Linked DNA regions of Homo sapiens. The protein of the gene in region 1 interacts with the protein of each later gene in a biochemical or structural test. Each region holds a gene or a part of one and is shown in the gene's direction. Other genes may lie near its edges.

Region 1 (3,500 bases):
GGGACAGTGGAAGGTGGGAATAGGGCTTGGGATTCGAGGGTGGGAGTTCATCCAGCATCAGAGTCCTCCTCTCTAACTCTGTTATTTGCCTCTCTTGTGCTGCTGGACCCAGAGAGAGGTACTATGCCTATTTTCCCCCTCCTACACCTGGACCAGATGCCTGGAAGCACCCAAGCTCCCCTCTTCTGCCCTGCCCCTTCCCACCCGCTATGCTCCACCATTACCCTCCACCTCAGCATGCTTGCCTGTCTACCCCTCCCCCCCAAGAAGGCAGCACCTATGGGGGACCAGCTGTGGGCAGAAGCCCTGGAGGAGCTGTGATGGGCAGGGAGGACGTGGGTGGGGTGGGGACCAGGCTCAGCACTGGATGGTACTGGGAGACACTGAGGTGCCCCTTCCCCAACAGGGACTTTGCCTACGTAGCTCGTGATAAGCTGACCCAGATGCTCAAGTGCCACGTGTTTCGCTGTGAGGCACCTGCCAAGAACATCGCCACCAGCCTGCATGAGATCTGCTCTAAGGCACGGCCCCCTCCACTCCCTGGACTAGTTGCCACCTTTGCTCTACAAGGGTGTGGGTGGGGTCACTGAGTGCTGTAGGGGGGCCCCAGGGCAATGAGGCTCTAATAGATTCTCCCTGGCTCCTCGCCTCCCTTCCTTCCTCAGATCATGGCCGAACGGCGTAATGCCCGCTGCTTGGTAAATGGACTCTCCCTGGACCACTCTAAACTTGTGGATGTCCCTTTCCAAGGTCAGTGTCAAAACCCCTCCAGGTCCAGCTCAGCTTTGTTGGCAAAGGTGGGTGACCCAAGGAAAGGCATGAGCTCCTGGACAGCGCTGATAGAAAAATGAACACATGAAGACTGAATACTCCAATACGTGGAGGGACTCCGGTTAAAGGGAGGCAGGGGACGAGATGAAAGTAGGGCCTCGGCTGGGCAAGTGTCCAGCTTATGCCCTGCTGGTGGGGCTGCGGGTGAGCAAGGTCTGCCACCATGATCAACCTTCTCTTCTTTCCCATAGTGGAATTCCCAGCGCCTAAGAATGAGTTGGTCCAGAAGTTCCAAGTCTATTACCTGGGGAATGTACCTGTTGCTAAACCTGTTGGTATGTGTGTCCTTCTATACCCAGGGGCTGCTACCTTGATCCTAAAACTCTGCCCCTACCCTCTGCCTTCCAATACTTCTTCTACCAGACCTTCCTCATGCTTGGTGTCTCCCTACCCTTTAAAATGCATCCCACCTCCCCATACTTCTGTCCTAGCTCTATTTCCTGTCCTGCCTATAGCAGCAGTCAGCACGCCTTCGCTGAGCATCAGCCACGTGAGTGGTGCTGAACCAGGCACAAAGGGAGACCCCACTCCTTCATCCCATGGAAAAGCTTTGGTGGGATTGGGAGGCTGATGTTAGATGACTGGAGGACACCAGACAGCAGCCTGTAGCTGGGTTTAGTGTTACAGCACCAGCTGTGGGCTGGGAGCATCTGGAGAAGGAAACAGTGAGCATAATTGTCACATACTTCATTGTTGCAAAGAATTTTTTTTTTTTTTTTTTTAAAGACAAGTCTCGCTCTGTCCGCCAGGCTGGAGTGCGGTGGCGTGATCTTAGCTCACTGCAACCTCCGCCTCCTGGGTTCAAGCAATTCTCCTGCCTTAGCCTCCTGAATAGCTGGGATTACAGGCTCCCGCCACCACGCCTGGTTAATTTTTGTATGTTTAGTGGAGACGGGGTTTCACTGTGTTGGCCAGGGCTGGTCTTGAACTCCTGACCTCAAGTGATCCACCTGCCTCGGCCTCTGAGAGTGCCGGGATTACAGGCGTGAGCCACTGTGCCTGGCCTGATCTGGTTAACTCTTATATTTCAGTGCTTTCCTAGTGTCTGCTATTTATTTGTTTATTCACTTAACAAATACCTTTGAAGCTTACCATGTGGCAGGCCCTGGACTAGGCACAGGGAGAACAGTGGCCACAGTCCCATTTTCCTAGAGGTTATAGAAGGTTATGGTAGAAAAAAACCAGGAATTAATAAAATAATCACACAAATAAATGTGTGAGTTATTCGTTGAGAGAAAGTAGCAAGATATAACAAAGGAATTTCATCTAGTCTGAGGTTGTAAAAGACTTCCCTGTGAAAGTGACATTTGAACTGAAATCCAAAAAATAAGTAGAAGTGAATGCGGTCAAGTGGAATGGAGGTGGGGGTGGGATGGGGGAAGATCAGGGTCTACAGTGGGAGGCACTTTGGCATTTCCAAGGTACTGAAAGAAGGCCAATGCAAGATGAGGCCGACAGCTGGGCAGTGGTCAGGCTGCCAGGTCAGGGACCTCAGGGGCTATGTTAATGATTTTTTCTTCATCCTAAGGGCAGCAAGGAGTTATTGAAGTCTCCGAGAGTGCACTTGCCTTAATCAGATTTGAATTTTGAAAGCTCACTTTGGCTATTTCATGGAGGGGACTGTTAAGTGGGTGGAGGTGGATGTGAGCAGCTCAGTTAGGAGGCTCTTGCTGTAGTCCTGGCCAGTAATGAGAGTATCTTGGGCAACAATGGAGCTGAAGAAGAGTGCGTGGATTCAAGAGCTGTTTAGACGGGTATAGTCAACAGGCCTCAGTGATTGGTTCGATGTGGGTGAGGGACAAGGATGACTCCTAAGTTCCTGGCTGTTGGACCTTCTGGATAGTGGATTATTTCTTTCAAGGTGGCAGATGCTTGAAGAGGCCAATTTGAGCGTAGAGATTGTGAGCTCACTTTTGGACATGCTGAGTTTGAGATGCCTTTGGGGAATCTGAGAGGCAAAGTCAGGTTGGCAGTTAGATTCACAGATCTGGAGCTGAGAGGAGAGGTCTGGGCTGGAGATAGGAGTTTTGGCATTATTGGGTTGTAGAGGTAATCAAAGCCATGGATGTAGAGTAGCTTGGCCCTGGAAAGTGGGCATCCTGAAGTGAGAAGGGAAATGAAGCTAGTCATAGCCTTGAGGCCCTCCAACATTCAATGGATGTGTAGAGGATGAAACTGCCAAGGATAGTGACAACTGGAGAGAGGCAGGAAGAAGAAAAGAGGCTACTTGAAAAAGAAGTGGTAGGGTATCATGTCAAAAGACACACAGGAAGAACTCAACAAATGTTTGATGAATGAAATAAAAAATGAATTAATGAATAAATGAGACTTGCTTCAGATTACATGGCCAGGAAAGCTAGACCTGGGAGTCAAACCCCGGTCATCTTTAATTCTCTGCACTTTCCCTTATACCGTGCTGACTTTCACGTCCAAAATCTTACATTGAAAGAGGGGACCCTTCTTAGAAAAGGTGGGGATTGAACTGAGGTTTTGAAAGAAGGTTTGGATTTGCAGAGTGGAGTGGGTATTTCATTTGGATTCGATGGCACTGCCAAAGACTTGGAGCTGGAGGTGAGAAAAGCATGCTGACCCTTACGCCTTTGCTTTCCTCCTTCTCGTCCTCAACTTCTAAACCCTTGTTGGCTCTTCCATTTGTTACCCCCATTCCC
Region 2 (3,500 bases), on another chromosome or scaffold:
TTGAGCTGAGATCGTGCCACTGCACTCCAGCTTGGGCAACAGTGAGATCCTGTCTCAAAAAAAAAACGTGCTTACCGTATCGTTCAACAGTTGCATTCTTGGGTATTTATTTCAGGGAAATTAAAACTCAACACAAAACCTGTACATGAATGTTCACAGCAGCTTTATTCATAGTAGCCAAAAACTGGAAACAAACCAAATGCCTCCAATAAACTGGCACACCCATACAGTGGAACAGTACTGTGCAATAAAAAAAAAAAAAAAAAGGAACTGTTAATAAATGCAGCAACTTGCTTGATCACAAGAGAATTAAGCTGAGTGAAGAAAGCCAATCTCAAAAGGTTACATACTATATGATTTCATTAATATAACATTCTTGAAGAAACAGAATAGTGGAGATGAAGACTATATTAGTGGTTGCCAGTGGTGAGAGATGAGGGAAAACGGTGACTGGCTATCAAAGGGTAAGGATCCTCATGATGGAACTGTTCTGTATCTTGACTGAGGTGGTGGTCACATGAGTCTGATTAAATTGCATAGAACTAAGCAAACAAGTACATGTAAAGGTGGTGAAATCCTAATAAAGTCAATTGTTAATTTTTTTTCCATGAAACCTGTACAACAAATTTTCTTATTTTAATGTTAATTTTCTGATTGTGATACAGATATGCAAAATGTTATGGGGAAAACTAAAGTATACAGGATCTCTGTTATTTCTTAGAACTGCATATAAATCTAAAATTGCCTTAAAATTAAAAAAAAAAATTTTCAAAGTTGCAAAGCTCTAAATTGTGCACTAAGGAAAAGATTTGGGAGACCATAGTCAATATGACAGAGTTTTCTACTGTCCTGGAATGTAAAAATTGAGCCCATATGAAAGGGCTTGTAACAGGCCTTTGGGGGATTTTTTTTTAACCAATACCCAGCCTTTCTATACCCATAGCCAATATTGTATATAATATATTATGAGTTTATATTTTTTTCTGGGTTGCTAATCAGTAGCTTCCATCAAATTCTCAGAGGGACCCATGATTCCAAAAAAAATAAAGAACCTATTGGCTTTGTGCTCTTGCTTGAAACAATAAGTAATTTGATAAATAAAACAAATGAAGTTGTTTTGCAATAGTAAGCTTATGGGACTTCTGATTCCAAAAGATGATACCAACAGAAAAGTTGAGAATTATAAATTTGGGGATGATAAAGTCATGTGAGTTGTTTAAGGGAAGTTGAGGGTGTTAACCATACTTTTTTGTATTTGTTTTTTTTTGAAACAGGTTCTCACTATGTCACTCAGGCTGGAGTGCAGTAACGCAATCTTGGCTCACTGCAACCTCTGCTTCCCGGGTTCAAGCGATTCTTGTGCCTCAGCCTCTCAAGTAACTGGGATTACAGGCGCATGACACCACACCTGGCTAATTTTTGACAGGCAGGCGGCACCACGCCTGGCTAAGTTTTGTATTTTTAGTAGAGACAAGGTTTCACTGTGTTGGCCAGGCTGGTCTTGAACTTCTGACCTCAGGTTATCTGCCTGCCTCAGCCTCCCAAAGTGCTGGGATTATAGGCGTGAGGCACCACACCCAGCGGCACATTTCTTTTTTTTTTTTTTTTAAGGAGATGGAGTCTTGCTCTGTCACCCAGGCTGGAGACTGGAGTGCAGTGGCATGATCTCGGCTCACTACAACCTCCACCTCCCGGGTTCAAGCGATTCTCCTCTCTCAGCCTCCTGAGTAGCTGAGACTACAGGAGCGCGCCACCACGCCCAACCAGTTTTTAGATTTAGCTAGAGTAAATCTTTAAATCTTTAGTAGAGACAGGGTTTCACCATAGTAGAAACAGGGTTTCACCATGTTGGCCAGGATAGTCTCGATCTCCTGCCCACCTTGGCCTCCCAAAGTGCTGGGATTACAGGTGTGAGCCACCGCGCCCCAGCCGGTACATTTCTTTTAATTCGGTTAATGATTATAGATGCCTGTTGTGTATCAAGCATTGTACTGTACTAAGAATTACAGACACTCAGCAATGGAAGGAGTCCAGAGATTGTTAACAACAGGCAAAGGAGGAGTGCTGTGTTTAGAAGTGTAGAACCAAGTATAGTGGGAGTCTAGAGGAGGGTATGAAATGAACCCTGACCTTTTAGAGCAGTTCTGAGAATCTTGCTCTCCTAGAAATACTCGCTCTGGATACTTAGAAAATCTTGACCATTGTCTTGTTCCTTATGCAGGCCATATCAAACGTTCAGTTGGCCGGGCGCGGTGGCTCACGCTTGTAATCCCAACACTTTGGGAGGCCGAGGCAGGTGGATCACAAGGTCAGGAGATCGAGACCATCCTAGCTAACACGGTGAAACCCCGTCTCTACTAAAAATACAAAAATTAGCCAGGTGTGGTGGCATGCGCCTATAGTCACCAGCTACTCGGGAGGCTGAGACAGGAGAATTGCTTGAACCCGGGAGGCGGAGGTTGCAGTGAGCCAAAATTGCGCCACTGCACTCCAGTGTGGGTGACAGAGCAAGACCCTGTCTCAAAAAAAAAAAAAGTTCAGTTAATGATATATTTGTATTGATTTTTTAGTTAAGCCAGACCAGTTGATAAAGTTGGTATATAATTTTCCCAGACTTCTCTAATATTAACTTTTTTTGTGTGAGTTACATCTCTTTTTCGCCCTCTCTCTTTTTTTCTTACTATTTTTCTTATTAACATTCTCTTTTAAAGTCATACACCAAGCATGTAGGAGAGCTGGGAATCAAACCCACTTTGTCTAGCTTCAAAACCCTTGTCTTTCCTCCAAGATATATTAAGCAACGTGGAAGCTTATAGTCTGGTTGGGATAAAATCTACAAAAAAAACAAAAGTGGGGGGTGGGAAAGGTTAAGTTATAGTAAAAGATGAAGGAAATTTTGAAAGGTTAACTGAATTTACTTTCTTTGGTATAAGAAGTGACTTGGGTTTAAGTATCTGCTATGTCACTAATTAGTTTTGAGATCTTGGACAAGTTATATAGCTTTTCTGAGCCCGGGTTTCTTCATCTGTCAAATGAAGATAATACTGGTTACAAAGACAAAGTGAAATAATAAATACAAAATTCCTGACGCATAGAAGGCATTGGATAAGATATGATTATTCTGAGTGGCTGGGAAACAAATGGGTCACCTCTTGTGTTGTTTACACCTCAGCTTTGTTTTCTTTGGCCCTTGGGATATCCAAGGTCTCCAGAGACCCAAGCAAAGATTACTTAAAGGAGTCAGTTCCAAAAGGGTTGTCTAGAAAGTACTTTTGCCTGAGGTTAAACCATTTTTAGGAAGCTCCTCCTTGATTTTTTGTCTTCCCATTTCAGTCTACTCTAGCTCTCCGGGGAAAGCAAGGACAAGGAGAGACATACAGAGTTGAAAAAGAAAAAAGAAAGACCAGACCATCAGACAACTGAACATCTGAGACACCCATAAAGCCCTTTTATTACCTTTAGGCCACATGCCAGTGTCTGAGGGTATAAATTGTACTTAA
Region 3 (3,500 bases), on another chromosome or scaffold:
TAAAACATAACTGTTTTAAAGTCTACTGATGAGGATGGAAATAAACATGATGCTAGATAGCTTTATCCATTTTCCTGATTAGCTGTCTATTACATATATTACATTAGCTTAAATATATATATGTAGGTTTATAATATTTATAGATATATTAGATTTATATATCCATTTTCCCAATTAGCATTCTCCTCTTAGCTGTTGAATTTGTGGCAAAGTACTTCAAAAGAATTAGAAAGGATTTGCCTTATAGTATTGTGCTTTATAGTATTATAGTATAATACATTGAAGCAACACAGATTTTAAATAATGTTCGATTGTGTTTTCATGTTTAGCATTAACTCCTGCAAAATTTTTAAATATTCTTTATATAATTTTAGAATTTAGCTTCAACCTTTGCTTTGGACTTCAACTAGCAGAGGTTTTACAACAGGGGGCAGGAACAATCACCCAAGGTCTTCAAGAACATAAGGGGTTAAAAAAAAGAAATTTAAAGTGTATGTGTGTTTAAGTAACTGCTAAAGATCTCAGAGTTCAAAGAAATACTTTACTAAGAAAGCACATCTTAAAAATAGCATTTCTTTATCTTTTTGACAAGTGTAAACATTTTTAAGGCAAAAAATTACATAGCTGTTTCTGGTGGTTGAAACAAGTGATCAGAAGCCAAGGAGTTATTCTGTTTAGATTCTTAAAGCAAGTTGAAGTAAAACTCCTGAGTGCCTGACTTCTTGACATCTGCCCTTTTATTTTTCTAAGAACAAAAAACAGCGCATGATGGTTCGAGCTGCAGTTTTAAAGATGAAGGATCCAAAACAGATAATCCGAGACATGGAGAAATTGGATGAAATGGGTAAGAATTTACAAACAGGCAGCTATAACAGTCTGACACGTACAGAGGCAGGCAGGTAACGAGTGAAGCAGCATAGGCGTAAGTAAAACAGAACAGCATGATGGCATTTGATGCTTGGATTTAATGTTAGTTTCAGGGAGACAAAATGGAGTGCTAGAGGGCTGTTGCAAACTGGAGACCCCAGATACCAGAATAAGAGGGAAGCGATTATTTGGCTTTCAGTTAATTGTTATTGTGAGATAACAGAAGCACAGTTTGGCCAGCTTGCTTTTTGGGAGAAGACTTAATCTGATTTATGAAATAACCTTGGGTTTTTTGTTTGTCGTCTTTTATTTAATGTTGGCAACTACCATGTAAATCTAAGTATTAGGCCCCTGTGAATATAAGGCAATTTCCAATTTTTCCAATCAGAAGATCCAAAAAGATACTTATCCATTTAGTAAGGATATAGAAAAAAATCATCAAATACCTAAAAACCAAATAATAAAATACTATACCAGGATTCTCTGCCTTTTTCACATTTTATAGAATAGTTTTATTCACTCTTCATATGCATTTTAAGTATCGCTGCTTTGTTATAACTGGAATCACATGAAATAGCTGCATGTTATCTTTTTTTGCATCTAAGTTTGAAAATCATTGATGTTGCCACTGGAAATTTTATCCTAACCCACAAATATCCATTCTGTTTAATATTAGAACATGTAGAATATTTTGTTTTTTTAATAGAAATTTTCAAACATGCAAGAAAATAAAATAGTCTAGTTAACTTCCATGTGCTTTTCACCTGTCAAGTTTCTGCCACTTTGTCTTCTACCCTTTGCCACTTTTGTAAAATAGCATTTTAAAGTGATCGTTACAAGTTCCATGTTTTGCCCAAAAACAGAGTAGTAAGTAAAAGAGATGGAATGAAACTCCTCAATGATACATTAAATGGGGTACAAAAAAAAAATTCAGTCATGGCATTAGGCTATTACAAGGTTTCTGAAATAATGTGGGAGAATCTGTGCAGCTAGCCTGGCTAAGAGTTCTGGGTCAGGCTTCAGGATCCCAGATATTTCCCAGTTCAGTTGTAACTGATTCCACTTCCTGCCTCTGGTCTAAATATCAGCAGGGATAATTACTTTCCTTGGGGAATCAGGGAATCCTTCTTTAAATGACCCCAAATGTTATGTGTTGTTTTAAAAGGAGATAATAGGAATAACTGAGGTTTCTTGAGTAGTTGTCTTGCTATACACCTACGCACCAGTTTTTTTCCACCAGTTTTCTAATCGTCACAATTTTTTAGGGTAGGTGCACTGTCCCTATTATACAGGTAAGAAAACTCAGGCATGGAGAGATTACATAGCTTTCCTCAAGGTCACACTGCTATGTAGTGGCAAAGCTGAGATTAAAACTCAGGCATTCAGCGCTTTTACTAATCACACTAGGATTAGTATGGTGTAAGAATACGCCCTCTGGATTTGAATAAATTGCCAAGATTAATAATAGTTAATAGGATTTAAGGAAGAAGATAAATTTGTTATTCTTTTAAGAAAAAGGAAAGGGGTGAAGAGAATACTATTCATCAGGGGTCTAGTTACAATTTATAAAACTCAATACAGACTAGTTAAGGCAGAAAAAAGCATGCATTGGCTGTCTTAATTAAGAAGTCTTAACATAAAAAAAAGATGAGAAATCCCTGAGAGAAACTAGCCTCAAAATCCAGTCTCATCATCAGTACTGTCCATCTGTCTAGTCTGATGTCTGTTAGCCTCATTCAGCTTACTACTAATGAACTCCTTGGGATAGAAGGTGGAATATATGTGTGTAATTAGTGATGATTGAGAGACAAGGCCACAGGCAGCTCTAGGTTTGTTTTCTCTCTACATAACACATTCAGAAAGAAAATCTGAGAGCTTATCTCTCTCACATCTACATTTAAAATCTCAGGGAATGTTCTGGTCCCAGTTTGGATCATGTGCTAATTGATCTCTGAGTCATTCACTGAAAAGGAAGATGGGGGGATATGATTGACCAGGCAGGCCTGGAGGTCTTATTCTTGGGATAGAGGACCTGCAGTTAAGCCCCATATTGACACATGATTAGTTAGGGAGAGAAAGGATTGTATAGTAGCTAGGCCAGGAATACGGATCTGTTATAAAGATTATAGTTAAGTGGTGAGTCAAACACCACTGGATATTTTATTTGTAATCCCATTGTATCATCATAGCTTTATTACAAAGTGATTAACGTCTCCATTTTTTAGATGAGGAAGCAAAAAATCAGAGAATTCAAGTAAAATGCTTAAGATCTCAAAATTTGACAGGACTAACGTAGTAGGTAAACACAAATCTGACAGAATCTTCACGAGGTTTTCAGCACAGAGCAGTGAAAATTGATTTTTATTACAATGAAGATGAAAGTCAATTAGGTGGCATTTCTGAGAAAGGTAAAATTAGTGGCCATCTAAAAAGGGTGGGGATTTTAATAAATATTGTAGTTCTTCGAATAAAATTGAAAAGAGTATGTCTGGTGTCTAGATCTCTTAAAAATTTTTTAGCATATATGGAGGTTTTTATCATGTAACCTATTGATACCTAATTGAAGTGGCCTCTTATATTTAATTCCATAATCTACTTTTTCTCTTAGAGTTTAACCCAGTGCAACAGCCACA
Region 4 (3,500 bases), on another chromosome or scaffold:
TCCTCCCACCTCAGCTTCCTGAGTAGCTAGGACTACAGGTGCCTGCCACCACACCCAGCTAATTTTTTTTTTATTTTTTTTATTTTTTTTAGTTTTTTTGTATAGATGGGGTCTTTCTGTGTTGCTCAGGTTGGTCTTGAACTCCTGGCCTCAAGTGATCCTCATGTCTCAGCCACCACAAGGTGGCTGGGATTACAGGCAGTGACCACCGCACCTGGCCTGTTCCCAACATTTCATTTTGGCAAATTAAGCTGTGGGGAAATCTCTGAGCATTTTCTTTCCCTTTTAGATCGTTTCCTTAGAAGAAAATTCTGTGTGGCTCATTATTGGCTAAAAGAGCATCCTTAAAAGATTTCTTAAACATTTTGCCAAGTAGCTTTCCAATAATTTTGTGCCATCCTCTGCTGCTAAAGAAATAAGAGGATATCCAAGGTCCCTTTAAATATATATGACCAGGTTAGGTGGCTCACGCCTGTAATCCCAGCACTTTGGGAGGCCAGGGTGGGAGGATCGCTTGAACCCAGGACTTGGACACCAGTGTAGGCAATATAGTGAGACCCCTGTCTCTACAAAAAATAAAAAAATTAGCTGGGCATGGTGGCGCATATCTGTATTTCTAGCCACTTGGGAGGATCACTTGAGCCTGAGAGGTCAAGGGTATGATCATGCCAGCGTACTCCAGCCTGGGGCGATAGAGCAAGACCCTATCTCAAAAAAAAAAAAAAAAAGAAAGAAAAAAATCCAAAACCATGCACATCCCTAGATTGATTTTTAGCTATGGTGATTGCTTTTGTAGGCATTTCTAAAATCTGTGAGCCAGTGTGGTGGCTTACACCTGTAATCCCAGCACTTTGGGAAACTGAGGTGGGCAGATCACCTGAGGTCAGGAGTTCAAGACCAGCCTGGCCAGCATAGTGAAACCTCGTCTCTACTAAAAATACAAAAAATTAGCCAGGTGTGGTGGCGGGCGCCTGTAGTCCCAGCTACTTGGGAGGCTGAGGCAGAAGAATCGTTTGAACCCGGGAGGCAGAGGTTGCAGTGAGCCAAGATTGTGCCACTGCACTCCCACCTGGGTGACGGAGCGAGACTCCGCCTCAAAAGTAAATAAATAAATAAAATCTGTGAACTTATCGTTTACATTGCAACAAAGAGACCAATATCCGAGTTAAAGCAGGCATGCAGAACTCTGTGCTTCACTTCTCCTGGGTTCACGTATATTTATGGAGCATGCAGTAGAAATGCACAACTGAGCGGTTTTCCAAAAGTTTTTTCGCTAGGTTAGGCCTTTTCATTTCCTGCATGTTCCTGTCAAGAAACTGAAGTGGAAATTACCCTTAAAAAGTCCCACCAGCTGGGTTGAGTCAGAATCATGTCTTTTTCTGTTGAAATCTATTCCTTCTGGTGGAGAGTATGATTCTAAAATTAACGTTAAGCTAATTTAAAGCAACTGAATAGCTTGGAATGAACATGCCAAGCCTTCTCATTGTTTTATTTTTCAGATTGTTCCCAGATGGGGTAAAGTTATGGCTTAGGCAGTGGTACAGGAGACAACCAGGGCCCCTTTTTCCAGGAGCCCTTTGTCTGCCCGAGGCATTTGCTGGGTATAGTGGCCTAGTTTAGCAGGATTTAAGTGTGCATTCACCTTCATTCTTATGTGTGGTTTGCATTATTTAAGGAGTAGGGAGAATTTTTTTTCCAAAGCATGAGGTTCCAGTTAGACTAATATACTGTCAAATTGAGACCTCATGGTGTTAGTTACACGGCAGGGTATGACCACGACTTGCTGAGGAGCCAGCCTGGGTGTCGATCACTAGTGTGGCACATAATTGCTGTGGTGGTTGATCTGGGGCACAGCACTGCCTGTACCCTGTCTCCTGCCATCTGTCTTAAAAAAAATTTAAAAAATTTTTGTTTTCAGAGGTGAAATTTCATTTTGTTGCCCAGGCTTGGGTATGATCTTCTGGGCTCAAGTGATCCTCTCGCCTCAGCCTCCTGAGTAGCTGGGACTACAAGTGTGCGCCACTGTGCCGGGCTCCCACCCCCTCTTAAACTCACAGGCCAGGGATATGAAAGTCTGAAGAGTGGAGCTGGCTAGCTGGCACCAGATGCCGGGGCCATGCCTTGGTGTGTTTGGGGCAGTTCTAAGTACAAGGTTCTCGCCAGAGGAGCAATGGAAGGCCCCACAGACAATGTTTATGGAACAACCCCTCCTAGCCCCTTGCATTTGCAGGCCACTGTACGATTTGAAAAGACTTTGAGGGCTGGGTTCAGTGGCTCACGCCTATAATCCTATCACTTTGGGAGGCCAAGGCGCTTAAGCGCAGGAGTTTGAGACCAGCCTGAGCAACATGGTGAAACCCCGTCTCTACAAAATGTAAAAAAAAAATTAGCCGAGCATGGTGGTATATGCCTGTAGTCCCAGCTACTCAGGAGGCTGAGGTGGGAGGATCCCTTGAGCCCAGGAGGTGGAGGTTGCAGTGAGCTGAGATTGTACCACTGCACTCCAGCCTGGGTGACAGAGTGAGACCCTGTCTATAAAACAAAAACACTTTGGCATCTCCTCAATAATGTTTCAAGGTAGAAAGGGAAACTGGTGTTAGCTGCATTTTACACATGGGGAAATGGAAGCAAAGAGTAGTTTGGTAACTTGCTGTGGGTCAGAGTGAGTCAGCAGTGAACCTGAGACTTGAACGTGTTCATATCTTGTGTCTTTAAGGTCCGTGTACTTTCTGACTGACACAGGTGTTGTATATAAGTGTGGCACTTTGAATATTACTGTTGGGACATTTTAAAAATCAGGGTTCCCTAAACATCATTATAGGGACATTTTTTCATTATCCTGAGGTTTTGAAGGCTTGCTGGGGACATGGGGCATATCTGGGGAACCATCCCAGGTACAGACAGTGGTTGGAGACCTCCCTGCTGATCTTACCACACCCCTGTCATCTGAAGGTGCCTTATACAGCTGTACGAGTCTGGGTTTTTGCTGAGGATGTTTCCTGTGTGGGCCTCACCAGTATAATGGGGGTGGTTTTAGGGAGTACTTGGACAAGGCGTTAAACCAACTATTTGTTTTTTGTTTGTTTGTTTGTTTCTTAAAGACAGGGTCTTGCTCTGTTTTCCAGGCTGGAATACGGTGACACGATTCTAGCCCACTGCAGCCTCAGACTCCTGGGCACAAGTGATCCTCCCACCTCAGCCTCCTGAGTAGCTGGGACTAGAGGCACACACCACCATGCCCAGTTAATTTATTTTTATATTTTTTTGTAGAGTTAGGGTCTTTTCTTGTTGCCCAGGCTCAAATCAACTAAATTTTCATGTCTTTCAGTCTTTCTTGTTACTCAGAGGACAAAGTCTAGGTTTGGTGCTCATGTACCTTTTACACCTCTCCAGCACTTGCTACCCCTTTGAACTAAGAGAATTAGTCTCAGCAAACTTCCAGCTAAACTTTGACAGTATTACTTTGTTTTCATTATGTTCACTTTTGACTACCTTTTGTT
Region 5 (3,500 bases), on another chromosome or scaffold:
CCAACTGCTTTTTAAGAGTCCCCAAAGTGATGAGGACAAAAGTTGAAAGTAAGCATTTAGAAGCATTTCTAGCAATTTGACAGTAGTTTTCTGTTTCTAAGATTGGATGTTGTGTGTCTTTTTTAAAAAACTAATTCATTTTTCTAATAATTCATTGTTATTTTACAAAAGCGTCAGTTCCTGATGAAAATATTTTTCAAAAGACTGGTCCTTGGCCAGGCGTGCACTTTGGAAGGATAACTTGAGCCCAGGAGTTCGAGACCAGCCTGGGCAACATGGCGAGACCCCCATATCTACAAAAAAAATGTTAAAAATTAGCCAGCCAGACATGGCGGTGCGTGCTTATAGTCCCAGCTACTCTGGAGGCAGAGATGGGAGGATTGTTTGAGCCCAGGAGGTCAAGGCTGCAGTGAGCTGTGATTGCACTACTGCACTCCAGCCTGGGTGATAGAGCAAGACTCTGTCGCAAAAAAACAAAAAACAAAAAAAAAGTTGGTCCTTCACATGGGTAAGTTTGAGAACCTCCAATCTGGCTTACATAGCAGGATTCATTTATCCATGTTTCCCCAAAAGTGTGGGCTATAGTGAACTGACTTAATAAAAAATATTAAATAAATAACACAGGTGGTATGAGAAGATGACAAAAATCATGAATCTTATACCAGAATGCTTGAAGTTTGGGAAACCTTGCTTATCTTATCAACTCATTTCTATCCGTTGTTACCTAATTCAAAGCAAGATTTTGGATAAATAGAATATAGAGATGAAGAAAGGGAAAAGGTGGGTTGGTGGCCATCATAGAACACTGCCCTTGTGAAACAACATAATTAAGGGCCCTGAACATGAGAGAAGTTAGCACCCAGGGAGGTCAGCTGTCAAAATAAATTTTGAGGCAGAACAGGAGGCTACTGAAGGTTGCTGACCCAAAACTGTTAAGAGATCCAGTGTGACACATCACTTAACCTCTCTAGGCCTCAGAGTTTTTTCATCCTTAAAATGAAGACAGCAGGTAATGTTAAGAGCTCTTTTCCAGGACATCCAAAGTATGTTAAGTTGAAAACAAACAAGTTGCAGAACAATAGAGGAGAATCCCATTAGCAAAAGCAAACTGTGTATGCAGAGAGCATTTCTGGAAGGACAGCAGAGAAACTTTTAACAAGCATGCTTCAGCGGTGTGTTGGGGCTGGATGGGGAGGGGCATTTTAGAGCCCACATTTATCCTTCTATCAGCTTGTAGGGAAGGCTCTTGACTGCCAGGGTTTGAATCCCAGCTCCTCCTCAACTAACTAGGTGCCTGGGGCAAATGATTTAAACTCCCTATACCTCAGTTTCCTTGTCTGTAAAATGGAAATAATAACTCACAGGGTTGATAAGGGCTAAATGAAGTAATACACATAAGGTGCTGAAAACAGTGCCTGGCACAGAGTATATGTTAACTATTATTATCATAAGCAAGTAATACTTCATCATTTAGTTATTTCAAGATGCTTCCAACTTTACCACTGCAATTCTGGTTAGCCTACTTCAGGGTTTTTCTGAGTTCTTCCTTTGCCTCTAACTCTGCTAATAAAAGGCTGAGTTAGGCCAGGAGCAGTAGCTCGTGCCTGTAATCCCAACTACTCAGGAGGCTGAGGCAGGAGGATCACTTGAGCCCAAGAGTTCGAGGCTGTATTGCATGATGATCACACCTGTGAATAGCCACAGCACTCCAGCCTAGGCAACATAATGAGACTCTGTCTCTAAAAAAAAATTGTTTTTTAAAGGCTGGGTAAGGTATTGAGCCATACATTTCCCCAGCTTTTCCTCCTGTGGCCCTAACTGGCAAATCTGAAATCATATCCCTGTCAGAAGGGCTGGGGCCAGCCTAGAAAGGACCTGTGGGTTTGGGGCAGCCAGACTCTCCCTGAGACAGACAAGACCTAGCCAGTTTCCAAGTGTGATAGACACAGGCACACAGGCAGGTGCCTACATCTAAGTCCATTTGCTGGTCTCTTAGTGTCCCCAACTCCCTGAAGGAACAAGATCCCAATTTCATAGTAGGTAGGGATCTTTCCTAGGAATTCTGGAAATATAAGAAAATAATCAGACATGTTAAAGCAGCATTTTTGTCCATTCCACAATTTCCATGAGCTAAGCTTTCATCAGAATTAAACATCAGAAACACCTCATGCCAACAGGACATGAGGGAACTTTTGAAGTAATGAAAATATTCTATATCTTGATTGTGACGGTGGTTTCACAACTGTATATGTTTGTCAAAACTCATAGAGCTGTAACTAAAAAGGGTGATTTCACTATGTGTAAATTACACCTTAATAAATCTGACTTAAAAAGAGAAAAAAAGCATCTTTGGCAATATACACAGAGGGAATTATTTTCTAGAACTTTAGTGGGTTTAAAAAACATACAGCTGACTCTTTTTGCTAGAGACAGTTTTTCCCTTGCACTGGGGTAGTTCTAAAAGATGGGAAAAGGAAGTTATTCTTCAGGGTACCCTCTAGTGAATGACGTCTGGTAATGTCCTGCAGAATCCTCCCAGACTTAAAATTCTTTTCTCGTGTCTAGTCATCTCACCCTAACCTGGCCCTGTTAGTTTCAGTCAGATTGTGGTCTGAATTTTCAGAGACTTTAATCAAGGACTGACTCTTCCTCCCTTAAAAATGAACATAATTTATTGCTGCATCTGCTTCCAAACGTCTGGATCTTAAAAAGAAAGATATGGGGTCTAAAACTTGTCGAGAATTTACAACCTATCACCAAGAACCTTAACAACAAGCTTCCCGTACCCAACCTTTCCCAGCCGAGTGTTACAATGCATGATTTTAACCCAAGAGATGACTACTTGTTTGTATGGCTCCCTTTCAGGCCAATACAGAGAAGCCTACCTTGAATAAGACAGAGCAGGCTGGGAGAAATGCTCTCCTTTCTGATATCAGCAAAGGGAAGAAACTAAAGAAGACGGTCACCAATGACAGAAGTGCACCAATACTGGACAGTAAGTAAAAAAAGGCTATCTACCATGGAGAGGAACAGTTTATGGCCTAATAATCAACCCTACCCTCACCACTCAATTTTTATTTTATTTTATTTTTTGGTTAACAACAGCTGCAAAGCTAGCAAAATAAGGGACTGTATCACTCCCTGTAGGCCGCAGCTTTGGCTTGGGTTCCCCTCTAATGCTGCAAGAAGCCAGTATAATAATTCTTTGTCCAAGACATACACAGCAGCAATTCTCTGCATTATTCACAACACTTTCTGGAGATTAACCCATTGCTCCTGGCACCACAGATGAGGAGGCAGCATAAAATATGGAAAGAGCCCTAGCCTTGGAATCAAAAGCTGTGGGTTCAAGACCTGGCACATCCATCCTGTACCATCTCCAAGCCTTGTTTTCTTCATTTTAAAATGGAGATGATAATACATGTTCTATTGACCTCACAAGTTTGTCATGAGCTTCAAATGAGATAATGCCTGTAAAATGTTTTGTTGTCTGGAAAGTG
Region 6 (3,500 bases), on another chromosome or scaffold:
AACTTGCCTTATTTTCTAGTTTGTGAACAAGAACGAATGAAGTACTATTATTGATAACTTATATATTTTTATTTAGAGCAATCCCACATGCTTTTCACAAACATTAAAAAAAAAAACCTTTCAGGGTCTTTCATGAAGTTCCAATAGTTGAGTGAGTTAAAAGGTTTGTTTCCCAGATTTGTAATGGTCCTGCTCTAGCCATTTGCAGTTTTGTTTTAGATGATTGGAAAGTATATCACCAAAAAAAGTATATAGTGACATTTTTAGTATGAAACCAAATTACACTAAGGTCTTTTGTTGGCCATATTACTGCCACACATGAGAAGCACCATTTATGCAGATTTTCTTCAGAATATTTTTAAAAGGTACAGAATCCTTAAAATATTAACAACTAATTGCATCCATCATCTCCTTTGGCTGCTGTAACAAATTACCACCAATAATATGATGGCTTAACACAACAGAAACTTATTTGCTTACATTTTTGAAGGGCAGCAAAGCCATGCTCCCTCCAGAGGCTCTAGAGGAGAATCTTTCCTTGCCACGTCCACCTTTTGGTGGCTATTGGCATTTTTTGGCTTATGGCCACATTTCTCTTTCTGCTGTGTCTTCACATCACCCTCCTCTGTATACCTAATCTGCCTCTGCCTCTGTTTAATAAGGATCCTTATGATGACTTTTAGGGACTACCCAGATTACTCCAGGATAATCTCCTCACCTCATGAGTCTTAACTTAATTACATCTGCAAGGCCCCCTTCTCCAAATAAGATAAATTCATGGTTTTGGGGATTAGGATGTGGCTATGTCTTTTAGGAAGCCACTCTTAGCCCACCAGAGTCTGCCCTTTGGCCCAAAATTTATGTCTGTCTCATGTGTAAAAGACATTCATCCCATCCTAACATTACCAAAAGTCTCAACCCATTATATCAATCCTAAGTCCAAAATTTCATTCAAATATCATCGGTTCAAAAGTTCCAAAGCTTATCATTTAGATCATCTAAATCAGGTATGAGTGAAACTCTGGGTATGGTCTTTCCTGAGGCCAAATTCCTCTTCCTCTGAGAACCAGTGAAACAGAAAAGTTAATCTGCTTTCAAATTACAATGGTGGGAACAGGCATAGGATAACAGTTACAGACATTTCTGTCTCAAAAAGGAGAGAATGGAAATTGGAATGGAGTCTCCTGTCCCAATCATTTTCAAAATCTAGCCAGGCAAATTTCTGTTATATTTCAAGGCCTGGCAGTAATCCTCTTTCTCAGGGCTCCACCCTTTGGGCCTGTAGCTCTTCTTTCTTGGACTATGGATTGGGCCTCTGCCTCTGTGCCTATGGGTTGCACTTCTTCCTCTGTTCCCACACTTGGGCCTCTGCCTCTGTACCTGCAGCTCTGCTCTCGGGATGGTGCTTCCTTTATCTTGAAGGGTGGCACATGTTTGCAGCTGAGAAGTTTTATCAACGGGTTTCCTACCTGTAGAATTCTGGCAGTCTCACAATCTTCTTTCATTTTTTTCTGTCTCTGTCCCTTTTAGGCCCAGTTGGAAGTGTTTCTGATGGTAGAACATTCTCAAAAATCTTGTGGGTCTTCTACGTATGTCACATTGATTCACACATTCAGAAAAGAGGGTCCTCACAGATTTTTCCTGAACAACCCCATCTCTATTCTTGGCTTCTGTTGAAACAGTCAAATAAATCCACAAGTTAATGCCTAACCTCTTCAGCACTAGCCAAAGGTTGTCAAGACACACCCTTGGGCTTATCTACAGAGCACACTTTTCTAACAGTGAATCTCCTAATTTTAGCATCTTTTTTTTTTTTTACAATCATTCAGATTGTGAATTCAGGCTCAGAATTTACCCAGTCATCAGATACTGATTCCTTTTGTCCACTTATATAGTTATTTTCTCTTTAAAAAAAAATTTTTTTTAATGTATTAGAGATGAGGTCTCACTCTGTCACCCAGGCTGCAGTGTAGTGGTGCAAACATAGCTCCCTGTAACCTCAAACTCCCAGGCTCAAGGGATCCTCCTGCATCAGCCTTCCAAGTAGCTGGGTCTACAGGTGCATGCCACCATGCCTGGCTAATTTTTTGCATTTTTTTGTAGAGACTTGATCTTGCTATGTTGTCCAGGCTGCTCTCGAACTCCTAGCCTCAAGCAATCCACCCATCTTGGCCTCCTAAAGTGCCGGATTACAGGTGTAAGCCACCATGCCCAGCCTGTTTTGTCAATGTATCTGTTTTCTGTCTTATTTTACTATAAGCACTAAGAAGAAACTAAGCTATATCTCTAACACTAGACTTGAAAATTTCCTCAGCTAAACATCCAAGTTCATCATTTATTCAACTTTTCACACTACTGTAGTAGACAATTTAGATAGATAAACTTTTTGCCACTATATGACAAGGATTCCCTTTCTTCCATTTTCCAATAAAATCTTCATTTCCTTCTAAACCATCACTAGAAATGCCTTTAACATTCATACTACTACCATCTGGTAAAGGCAATCTAGTTTTTTCTATCACAGCCACCAAAATTCTTCTAGTCTCTACCCATTATCCAATTCCAAAGCCTTTTTCACATTTTAAGACATTTGTTACAGAAGTACCCAATCCGTCCCAGTTCCACAATCTGCATTAGATTCCCATGGCTGCTGTAACAAATTACCCTCTAGCCCAGTGGCTTAAAACAATAGAAATTTATTATCTTGTTGTTTTGGAGGCCAAAAGTCCAAAATTGAGGGGTTGGCAGGGCTGAACGTCTTCTGGAGACTCTAAGGGAAACACTCTTCCCGTGTCTTCCAGTTTCTTGTGGCTGCCATCATTCCTTGGTTTGTGACTGCATCTCCCTCTCCTCTGTCTTCACATCACTTCCCCTCTGTATATATAATCTACCTCTGCCTCTCTCTTATAAGGACACTTGTGACGGGACTTAGGGCCCATCCAGATTACCCATGATAATTCCCTTATTCCAAGATTCTTAATTATATCTGAAAGGACCTTTTTTCCAAATAAGGTACTATCACAGGTTCCAGGGAGTAGGATATTGAATATCTTTTTTGGGGAGGGGGCACCATGCAGCTCACTACACTATTCATTGCACACAAATGAATTTTTCACTTTTTAAGATGCATTCTTGGTGCTCAAACCAGATCGAAGTTTGTCTCTAAAAGCTATTGTCTGCACAGGCTGCTGCATGCTCTGTTGTTAAATGGATGGACAGGCTATTCTAAATTTTGGTTGATACTTTTGCTACTATGGGCAATTAACTTGAAAAAAATAATCGATCCCAACTCTGTGCTCTGATGTACCTCTTCTGCCCCTTTTATGACACCTTTGACCAAATGCCTTCTATGGTTCACAGTGCAGGCACAAAACTACCTCTGATACAGAAGGGTTCTTTACAAGCTTATTTTACATACCGTGAATCCCTCACCTAAAGGGAGAGGTGAAAGCAAAGACTGCTTTGAATGGGTATTGAGGGAGATTGTGTCCATACCAAGC
Region 7 (3,500 bases), on another chromosome or scaffold:
TTCAGCCTCCTGAGTAGCTACAACTACAGGCGTGTGCTACCATGCCTGGCTAATTTTTACAATTTTTTTTTAGAGATGGGGTCTCGCTATGTTACCCAGGCTGATCTCGAACTCCTGGGCTCAAGCAGTCCTGCCTTGGCCTCCCACCGTGCTAGGATTACAGGTGTGAGCCACGATGCCTGGCCTTGAAATTTTTTTTAATAGAATTAATCATTTAGGAATCAATTTATCAGTATTGTTTGTAGTGTTCAGTAAAATGATTTATATTATAGTTAGTTGTCCTATTGGAGTTTTGTTTAATGAAAAAGCTGAGGGTTGGGATTCAGAATATACTTCCTGTTTTTCTGTGATGTCTTTTAGAAGCCTTGTATTTTGGAAATAGTTGTTCACCGGTTATATCTGGCTGAAGGAGAGTAGATATCACTTAGGGACCAGACTGAAAGGTGTAGGTGAGACATTAACATCTGAGGGCAGTATCTGTGTAACATGTAATGAGCAGTGATTAGAACACTGAAAATAATTCAGACGAAAAATGAAAAATAAAAATCAAGGAGGAAGAAGTGCTACAAGTTGGGTTTAGCAGGATCTAAGGCTTAGAAAGAAGAAAAGGGCTGGGCATGGTGTCTCACACCTATAATCCCAGCACTTTGGGAGGCTGAGGTGGGCAGATCACCCAAGGTTAGGAGTTCCAGACCAGCCTGGCCAACGTGGTGAAACCCCCTCTCTACTAAAAGTACAAAAAAATTAACCGGGCATGGTGGCGTGAGCCTGTGATCCCAGCTCCTCGGGAGGCTGTTGCAGGAGAATCGCTTGAACCCAGGAGGCGAAGGTTGCAGTGAGCTGAGATCACGCCACGCCACTGCACTCCAGCCTGGGCGACTGAGTGAAACTCTGTCTCAAAAAAAAAAAAAAAAAAAAAAAAAAGAAGAAAAGGCACAGGAGGGGAAATCAGAGGGACAGAATTGGTGGGGAGCAGTTAAATAGTTTTATCAGATGTGACCTTCTGCTATCAGTGATATGAATTGTTTTTCTCAAGAGCTTGATATGTAGGTCTGAGTTTTAAAATACAGGAGGCCAGGGGTTGCTCACGCATGTAATCCCAGCATTTTGGGAAGTCAAGACAGGAGGATTGCTTGAGACTGCAAACATACAGAAAAGTAGAGAGCGGCTGGCGCTATACTCCAGCCTGGGCAACAGAGCAGGACTCTGTCTCAGAAAAACAAAACAACAGGCCGGGCACAGTGTGTGAAGACAGGTTTTAATAACACTAGGGTAGGCTGGGCACGGTGGCTTACGCCTGTAATCCCAGCACTTTGGGAGGCTGATGTGGATGGATCACCAGAGGTCAGGAGTTTGAGACCAGCTTGATCAACATGGTGAAACCCTATCTCTACTAAAAATAAAAAAATTAGCTGGGTTTGGTGGTGCGTGCCTGTAATCCCACCTGCTTGGGAGCCTCAGGCAGGAGAATCTCTTGAACCAGGAGGTGGAGGTTGCAGTGAGCCGAGATCGTGCCACTGCACTTCAGTTTGGGCAACAGAGTGAGACTTTGTCTCAAAACAAAATAACAAAAAAAACTACCGTGAGTAGTAAAATGAACCCCTCATATACTCATCACCTAGCTTCAACAGTTACAAGCTTAGGCCAGCTTTGTTTAATTTGTACACTGGTCACTTCTACTCTTCCCATTATTTTGAAGCAGATCTTAGACATACCACTTTATCCATAAATATTTCAGTATGTATTTCTGTGTAGGGACTTAAAAAGATAATACCATGATTACACCTAAAATTAAAATAATAAAATATCTAGTCACTGTTCTGTTTTACCCATTCTTTTAAACTTTGTTTTTCAGTTTCAGTCAGGCTTCCAAGAAAACTGATAACATTTTGATTGGTTGGTTTCTCTTATATCTTTTTCATTTCACAGTACATTGTGATTTAATGATTTATCTCTTAAATCTTTTTCAGTTCATAGGTTCCTCCTGTCTCTTTCTTTTTCCTTGCACTTCATTTGTTGCAGAACCTTTGTCCTGTGGTTTCGCACAGTCTGGAGGAATTGGGGAAAGTGGCTGTCTAAACTGGTTCCCTCCTTCCCATTACTGCTGCAATCAAGATGTTAGGGGGCCTACAAGCAATGGAAGCACCCAGAAAATTATTGGCTCTAAGTATGAGCATAGTTCTGAAATCATACTTCAGGTTTAGATTGTGCTAGTCATGGGAAGGAAATTTTTTTTTTTTTTTTTGAGACAGAGTCTTGCTCTGTTGTCCAGGCTGGAGTGCAGTCGCACAATGTCGGCTCACTGCAAGCTCCGCCTCCCGGGTTCAAGCGATACTTCTGCCTCAGCCTCCCGAGTAGCTGGGACTACAGACGCGCGCCATCACACCCAGCTAATTTTTGTATTTTTAGTAGAGATGGGGTTTCACCACATTGGCCAGACTGGTCTCGAACTCCTGACCTCAGGTGATCCATCCACATCGGCCTCCCAAAGTGCTGGGATTACAGGCGTGAGCCACCGTGCCGGCCTGCCTTAGTGTTATTAAAACCTGTCTTGACACAAAAACCTCTAAACAAATGTTTACAGTAGCCTTACTTGTAATCACTGCAAACAGCTCGATGTACTTCAGCTAGAGAATGGATAAACACACTGTAGTACAATGGAATACTACCCAGTAATAAAAAGGCAGAAACTATTGATGTGCACAACAGTGTGGAAATTGGAATATTTAAGGGTTTAAATGGGTTAAAGAGTGCCAGCTTTTGGCAGTTTTGTGTGGCCAATAGGAAGTCCTAGTCTCTTCTTGCTCAGTCACTAGCAGACAGTATCCCTTTTTTCTTTGTCTTCACATCTGAATGTATTGAACTATGAGTCCAAACTGGGAAGGGATTAGGCTGGAACAGGATTTGTTCATTTTGGTCATAATTGAAGTTGGAAGAGATTATTAGCATAGACGTTTCTTTGCCTCAAGTCTTCATTGTTTTTGACCTCTGGTTACTCATTTTGGTATGTTCTCTCATTTTTTATTTTCATAGTTGCCAACCCCCGCCTTTTTTTTTTGAGATGGAGTTTCACTGTGTCGTCCGGGCTGGAGTGCAGTGGCGTGATCTTGGCTCACTGCAACCTCTGCCTCCCAGACTCAAGCGATTCTCTTGTTGCCCAGGCCAGAGTGCAGTGCTGTGATCTCGGCTCACTGCAACCTCCACCTCCCAGGTTCAAGCGATTCTCATGCCTCAGCCTTCCAAGTAGCTGGGATTACAGGCGTGCCACCACCATGTCTGGCTAATTTTTGTATTTTTAGTGAAGACAGGGTTTCACCATGTTGGCCAGGCCGGCTTTGAACTCCTGATCTCAAGTGATTCAACTGTCTTGACTTCCCAAAGTGCTGGGATTACAGGCGTGAGCCACCGCGCTCAGCCAGTTGCCAAGCAGTTTTATGCATTGATCATTTGTTGTCAGAAATGATCTATTTGCATATTTTTAGTCAGTTTATATTTAAGAA

The links.
Region 2: the proteins of APBB1 (region 1) and KHDRBS1 form a complex in vitro, tested with the Homo sapiens proteins (one study listed by BioGRID).
Region 3: the proteins of APBB1 (region 1) and WBP11 form a complex in vitro, tested with the Homo sapiens proteins (one study listed by BioGRID).
Region 4: the proteins of APBB1 (region 1) and SF3A1 form a complex in vitro, tested with the Homo sapiens proteins (one study listed by BioGRID).
Region 5: the proteins of APBB1 (region 1) and WIPF1 form a complex in vitro, tested with the Homo sapiens proteins (one study listed by BioGRID).
Region 6: the proteins of APBB1 (region 1) and DIAPH2 form a complex in vitro, tested with the Homo sapiens proteins (one study listed by BioGRID).
Region 7: the proteins of APBB1 (region 1) and SF3B1 form a complex in vitro, tested with the Homo sapiens proteins (one study listed by BioGRID).

The regions. Positions count from the first base shown.
Region 1 is NC_000011.10:6,398,595-6,402,094, reverse strand, and holds part of APBB1 (amyloid beta precursor protein binding family B member 1), read left to right. Parts: coding exon 1-13; intron 14-112; coding exon 113-118; intron 119-406; coding exon 407-521; intron 522-665; coding exon 666-750; intron 751-1,022; coding exon 1,023-1,106; intron 1,107-3,500. UniProt on the Homo sapiens protein: Transcription coregulator that can have both coactivator and corepressor functions. Adapter protein that forms a transcriptionally active complex with the gamma-secretase-derived amyloid precursor protein (APP) intracellular domain.
Region 2 is NC_000001.11:32,020,368-32,023,867, forward strand, and holds part of KHDRBS1 (KH domain-containing, RNA-binding, signal transduction-associated protein 1), read left to right. Parts: intron 1-3,500. UniProt on the Homo sapiens protein: Recruited and tyrosine phosphorylated by several receptor systems, for example the T-cell, leptin and insulin receptors. Once phosphorylated, functions as an adapter protein in signal transduction cascades by binding to SH2 and SH3 domain-containing proteins.
Region 3 is NC_000012.12:14,796,979-14,800,478, reverse strand, and holds part of WBP11 (WW domain-binding protein 11), read left to right. Parts: intron 1-750; coding exon 751-844; intron 845-3,475; coding exon 3,476-3,500. UniProt on the Homo sapiens protein: Activates pre-mRNA splicing. May inhibit PP1 phosphatase activity.
Region 4 is NC_000022.11:30,346,895-30,350,394, reverse strand, and holds part of SF3A1 (splicing factor 3A subunit 1), read left to right. Parts: intron 1-3,500. UniProt on the Homo sapiens protein: Component of the 17S U2 SnRNP complex of the spliceosome, a large ribonucleoprotein complex that removes introns from transcribed pre-mRNAs.
Region 5 is NC_000002.12:174,580,805-174,584,304, reverse strand, and holds part of WIPF1 (WAS/WASL-interacting protein family member 1), read left to right. Parts: intron 1-2,865; coding exon 2,866-2,995; intron 2,996-3,500. UniProt on the Homo sapiens protein: Plays a role in the reorganization of the actin cytoskeleton. Contributes with NCK1 and GRB2 in the recruitment and activation of WASL.
Region 6 is NC_000023.11:97,601,342-97,604,841, forward strand, and holds part of DIAPH2 (protein diaphanous homolog 2), read left to right. Parts: 3' UTR 1-3,500. UniProt on the Homo sapiens protein: Could be involved in oogenesis. Involved in the regulation of endosome dynamics.
Region 7 is NC_000002.12:197,428,529-197,432,028, reverse strand, and holds part of SF3B1 (splicing factor 3B subunit 1), read left to right. Parts: intron 1-3,500. UniProt on the Homo sapiens protein: Component of the 17S U2 SnRNP complex of the spliceosome, a large ribonucleoprotein complex that removes introns from transcribed pre-mRNAs.